2 separate regions of the Homo sapiens genome follow, and region 1 is linked to region 2. A link means that fine-mapping ties the variant in region 2 to the expression of a gene that starts in the linked region. Tissue or cell type: prefrontal cortex. Region 2 holds a variant in brackets; the other region holds the start of a gene. All regions are shown on one strand. Distances are from middle to middle.

Evidence for each region. PIP is the estimated chance that this variant, and not a neighbour inherited with it, causes the effect.
Region 1: it holds the start of MRPL43, and the variant in region 2 is the best candidate, but not a certain one, in a credible set for the expression of MRPL43 in prefrontal cortex (GTEx, PIP 0.68).

What each region holds. Positions count from the first base shown.
Region 1 is chr10:100,986,165-100,989,070 of GRCh38, reverse strand. It overlaps MRPL43 (mitochondrial ribosomal protein L43), which reads left to right and starts at 1,574. Exons shown (of 3, transcript NM_032112.3): 1 at 1,574-1,758; 2 at 1,875-1,981; 3 at 2,096-2,802. The coding sequence starts at 1,628. The coding sequence ends at 2,337. It overlaps TWNK (twinkle mtDNA helicase), which reads right to left and starts at 1,528. Exons shown (of 5, transcript NM_021830.5): 1 at 1-1,528. The coding sequence starts at 860. RefSeq lists an enhancer at 1,746-1,815.
Region 2 is chr10:100,887,859-100,890,764 of GRCh38, reverse strand. No RefSeq gene overlaps it. Among named protein-coding and RNA genes, the nearest start is that of SLF2, 24 kb to the left of the region's middle. RefSeq lists enhancers at 1-53, 1-777. The variant T/C (reference allele first, on the strand shown) is at 1,757.

The sequences.
Region 1 (2,906 bases), 98 kb before region 2:
GTTCCTCGGGGTAGAGTAAGGGTAGGCAGCCCCGTGGACTGGTTCAAGGCCAGGCTGTCAAGCTCACGACTCGTCAGTACCACCTCAGCATCTCGACGACTAATCAGTGGTAATCCAAACAGATTGTGGTAGGCGCTGGGTCGGGGAATAGTGGTTTCCTCGTAGCTCACTCCATCCCCCTGGCATTTAGCCTCTAGGAGCTTCAGGCCTCGTAATCCTGAGCCCCCAGGGGAGAACCAAGGGAAGACAAGACTGCGAGCAGGTCGCAGATATCGCACACTGAAACGCTTGAGTGTGTCATCTGTAACCTTGGTAAGGCCAAACATTGTATCAGCCAGCTGAACCTCCTCCTGATCAGGCAGCTCCCAGAGAGGTATTGCTCGGTTCCAGATCCTCCGGACCTCCTCGCTGTCCTCAAATTCTGGTGCCTTGCTAAGCAGAAACCCCTCCCTGGCCCCATCCCCTCGCCCCTCCACGCTGGCCTGGAAGTCTTCCCAGCTCCCTTCTGCTAGGCTGGTCATGCAGAGAAAGTGGCCTGTGGTCTTGTCAATGAAGAGGCTGAAGGAAGTGGTAACACCAGTCTGGCCTTTGAGCTGTGAAGACTCTGCAAAGGGGCTCAGTGCCCGCAGGCAACTGTGACCATCCTGGAAGGGGATCCCATGCCCCCGCAAATACTGGCGGATTTCAGTTGCAGTTACAGGCAACACTGGCATATCCAAGGCTTGGAGAGTCTCCTTCCTGTAACGTCTGCGAGGAGGGCCTGGGGCCAAGTTTCGGGGCAGGCCCCTCCGACCCATCCACTCCCCACGCAGGGGTAACAAGATACGGAGGGGGTACCCACTTCGGAGGAGGACCCACATTCCTAGCCAAATGTGGGAAGTCACTACTTGAAATGCCTTAGGTGCCTGGTTAGCGTGCCTTCACTAGACCAAACTCTAGGGATATCCCACGCAGCACTCTGCAGAGCTCACTCTAGGTGCATTCTTTCTCTCCATGAATTTCTCCTCTTCAGCCCCTCTACGTTGCTGCTTCACACATATGCCCATCTACACGACCCTTTCGCGTCCACGTCCTTCTACAATGGCTCCCCCACCTCTATGGTCCGTTAGTTAGTTTCTCTCCGCCACCTCACCTCTATGACCCTCTATACAGTTCCTCACTGACACAGTTTCTTTGCATCATCTTCTCACCTCTACTGCTCCTCCACAGCATCTCCTCGTCGTCCTCATTTCTATAGTCATCTGCATCCTTTTTGTAGTCCCTTTGCCCTAGGCCCCGACTAGAGACCCTCTTCCGCTTCTCCTTCCCCTCACTGGGACCTCAACACGGCGAGAGCACCCAGCACGACTCCCGCCAATCCCCCGGCCCAAAGGAATGCCAGTCTCTATCCTCCCCCGTGTCTTCACTCCGCTCTACTACTCCGAGCTCCGCCGCGCCGGCCCCCAGCCCCAGGTTACCACTTTTCTCTCTCCCACTTCGCCGGCAACGTGAGTCTCCCGCACATGCTACTCGCCTTGACCTCGGAAGCAAAACTCCGGGAGCGGTCGTCCCGGAACCGGAAGCCTCGAGGTTTAGTCCCGCCCCCCTCTCCTCGCTGCTTAGGCTCCGCGGCCTCCAAGCTGTAGCTATGACGGCGCGCGGGACTCCGAGCCGCTTCTTGGCCAGCGTTCTCCACAACGGACTGGGTCGCTATGTGCAGCAGCTGCAGCGTCTGAGCTTCAGCGTCAGCCGCGACGGCGCCTCGTCTCGCGGCGCCAGGTGAGCCAAGGGAAGTGCGCAGGCGCGGGTCGGGGTGGGTGTGGAGGTGGCAACGACTCCCCGGGTAGGTCGCCCCCAGTCAGGGGTCATACTGCTCACTGTCCCGGGTCGCTTAGGGAGTTCGTGGAGCGGGAGGTGATCGACTTCGCCCGACGGAATCCAGGGGTCGTAATATATGTAAACTCGCGTCCGTGCTGCGTGCCCAGAGTAGTGGCCGAATACCGTGAGTGGGGCCGGGCTCGGGCTGGAGGGCGGGATCAGGGGCTCGACCCGCTATCCTCCTTCTCGCTTGGTCGCACCGGCCAGCTTCCACCCACTCTCACCCCTCTTCTGCCAGTTAACGGGGCTGTGCGCGAGGAGAGCATCCACTGCAAGTCGGTCGAGGAGATCTCGACGCTGGTGCAGAAGCTGGCCGACCAGTCGGGCTTGGACGTGATCCGCATCCGCAAGCCCTTCCACACCGACAACCCTAGCATCCAGGGCCAGTGGCACCCCTTCACCAACAAGCCGACCACGTTCCGCGGGCTACGCCCCCGAGAGGTTCAGGATCCTGCCCCAGCCCAGGTGCAAGCACAGTGAAGAGTTGCCCCACCAACTGCAGCCCCAGGCTTTGGACTGTTACTCCGGTAAAGGTGGTTCTTCCCCTTTGGGATTCCAAGCCCAGGCAAATGGAACCCATCAATGGGCAAGTTGACAGAGGTTCTGCTTGGGATAATGAAGAGCTGCCTGTTTCTTTCCAGTGCCTGCTTCTGGGGGCAGTGACCTTGTGAACCACTCATTTTTATGCAAGTGGCATCCCTAAAACCTGAGATGAGGAAGACTTCAAGGGTTTTACAGGGCCCTTGTTTTTTAAATCCAAATTGATAATAATGATCTCAAAACACAGTGAGAGGTCTGAAGGCTGGCTTCTGAAGAATCCCTGATGTCTTATTGGAACAACCACTGAGCTACGGAGAGCTCTGCTGTGATGGGCTAGGCACTTTATATCTGTGTGAATACAGATTTATAAAACAGGTTAATAAACTTATCCAAGGTCACATTTCAGGTCTGTCTTCAAAATGTGTGCATATGTTAAGCACAAGCCTCAGTTTTCATTATTTTAAAACTAGACGCAGAACATATAACAACTGTCAGGTGGTTAGTATCAA
Region 2 (2,906 bases):
CCAAGTTATTAGAAATCTAACTCCGAAATCACTAATCCCCAAATAGCCTCTATTCTCTCAACTGCTGGCTTCCTTGCTTTGATTTTATGCACAGTAGTTCTAAACTCAAGGCCAAAAATTCTACCCCATGCCGAGCCACTTTCAAAGGAGAACCAATATGCTAGGACTAGAGGGGGATTTGAATAGCAGCTAATTGTCAGTTTGTCTAGTGAATAAAGCTTCCTCTCTCCCCTGAGCAAGCTGGTTATTTGTTAAAGTTTGCTGGGGTTTTGGAGCACCTCACTGTTAGGGGCAGTTCAAACTCAGCAGTTTTAATTATTAATCAGGTCAAAGGCTGATGACAATTTTTCCTCTCTTCAGGGGAGGGTCTTGAGAGTTCACAGGAGGGGATGTCCAAGCCCTGTCCTGTGACGGGGTGGAAAGGAAGGAGAGAGGGAAACAATTCAAGTCAGACCAGTCCCGAGTTCCTAATGGTTCCTTTGCCCTAGACAGACCGTATTGGAAAGTCGCTTAATCTGCCTCTGGGTTCATTTTAAGCGAATATAGGTCTTCATCCTTTCCAGGGGGTTGTAGCTTTCTGAGTTGATAAAAATTCCAGACTTGATAGAACATGTTAAAATGTTGTACCCTTGCAAATTGGAGTGCAGAAAAGGTGGTATGCTCTTCAAATGTGTCTACTCTGAGGTATCACCTTCCTCGGGGTGAGAATGGGGAGGGGTGCCTTCTGCTTGAGCACATGTAGAAAAGGCGTGAGGCTTTTTCCAGTTTGAGTTTGTAACATTTTCAAATACAGCCCTTCCTCCCACACTTCTTTCCTGATCCCTGTGGGTCTCCTTTCTCCTTTTGGCCTGAGACCCCAACTTGACAAGATCCAGAAAGGTCTCTTTTACATCTGCCTATTTGTTAGCCATTCTAAACTATTCCAGCAGCCTCTGCCTCCCACCCTCGTTGCTAGGCAGATTCCCTGGTTGCTAGGCCACCACTGCTCCTTCCCTGCCTCAAAAAGAGGTACGAATTTCCGGTGACCCACTCAACCATCCACCCACCCACTCACACACTGACAAAACAAATAGGTCCTAAACACCTACTAGATGTGAAACTCTGAGCCCAGCGTAGAACAGTTCCAAATGGAAAGAGAGATGGCAAATCCAGGGGTATCTGATATAGAGGTGACCAGTTGTGGGGGTGATGAGCATGCTGTCTCCTGGGAGTTTTCTCCGGGAACAGCCATAGACTGGGATAATTTTCTCTGACCCTCAGCCTTTTGGGTGCAGAAAACTCATTTTCTGCCCAACCAGAAACAGATCCTTGTCCTAGTGGCAAAAGCATATTGATCAGGCTTGAGAGACTAATGCCTAAAACCAGAAAGTGAATTTATTAATTTATGATGTGAATGAAGTCTGTCACATGGATCCAAGATAATCTACTTTTCTAGAAATGATGGTGTCACCGAAGGATATTGGAGAGCTGGTATAGAGCACCAGTTTGCATAGGAAAGGGAGTATATCTGTATATCTATATTAATTTTAACATTCTTACTATATGTCAGGCAAAATGCTAGATGGTTTACAGATGCAATTTTATTAGTTCCTCCTATCAACCATGAGAGGGAGCTACAAAACACTCCTTCCAATGTCACAGAAAAAGCAGTTCCAGTTAAACGACTTAACTCAGGTCTTCCAGCTAATAGATGACAGGACCAGAATTTGAACCCCAAAGCCCATGGTTGGACCAATGGATTCCAGCTACCTGGCAA[T/C]AGTAGGCTGACACGTTAGCTTGGGGGCAAGTTGGGTAATGGATGCTAAGGCGCTGATGAATGAGCCTGATGGAAATTTCCAATAAATGATGGAACATGTGGAAGTGGAACTCTGTTGAACCTACATCTAGAGATGGGAATTGGAGGCATCATCTAGCATTTAGCTCACTTCTTCTGGAGGTGCTCTGAGAGAACAGTTTCTCAATTCTTGGTGATAGTTGATACGTATTTGTGCTTGTTAGCTCCAGTGTAGCAGTGGAATATAGGAAGGTCATGTGGGCTGGCATCTAAATGGTGGGGAACAGGGGACCTAAGAGGGATTGCTAGGGCTGGGAGCTCAGAAGGAAAGGCTTCTGGAGTAATAGCTTCACCACCATCCTGCCAGACAGACATCAACCCAAGAGTCCCAGCACCTAAAGCTACCAAGAGACCAAGATCTTAGCTTTTTTTGTTGTTGTTTTTTAAAGAGACAAGGTCTCACTCTGTCACCCAGGCTAGAGTACAGTGGTGTTCACTATGACTTCAAACTTCTGGGCTCAAGCTATCCTCCTGCCTCAGCCTCCCAAGTAACTAGGACTGTAGGTGGGTACCACCACGCCCAGCTAGCTTTCTAAAAAATTTTCTTTGTAGACATAGGCTCTCACTATGTTGTCCAGGTTGGTCTTGAACCCCTGGCCTCAAACAATTCTCCCACCTTAGCCTTCCAAAGTGCTGGGATTACAAGTGTGAATCACCATGCCTGGCCAATTTTAGCTTTAAGGAAAGGTAGAAGCAGCCTTGGGGAGAAGGTCGCATGTTTGTGGGTGGAGCAGAGTCACTGAGCTCTCTGGAAGGGGCACCCCGGAACCGGCATAAGAAGGTCGGCAGAGGAGTGCATTCCTCGTTCAGGGGCCAGGTCAGGAGCCCCAACTAGGGGGCAGAGCAGACATAGCACAGCCTAGATTTGGGAGCCAGATTCAGACAGGAGCCTGGGTGGCATTGTTCTGAAAGCCGAGAACTCAATGAGACATGGCAATGGTGTTAACCGCTGTGGAGACAAGAGCGACTCCATCGCGGATGCTAACCCGCCATGTTAACTTATGAGTAGCCCCAGTCCTGAGTGCCTCCTGATTCCTACCTTGTTTGTCTCTAGTGTAAGAACAAAGCAACC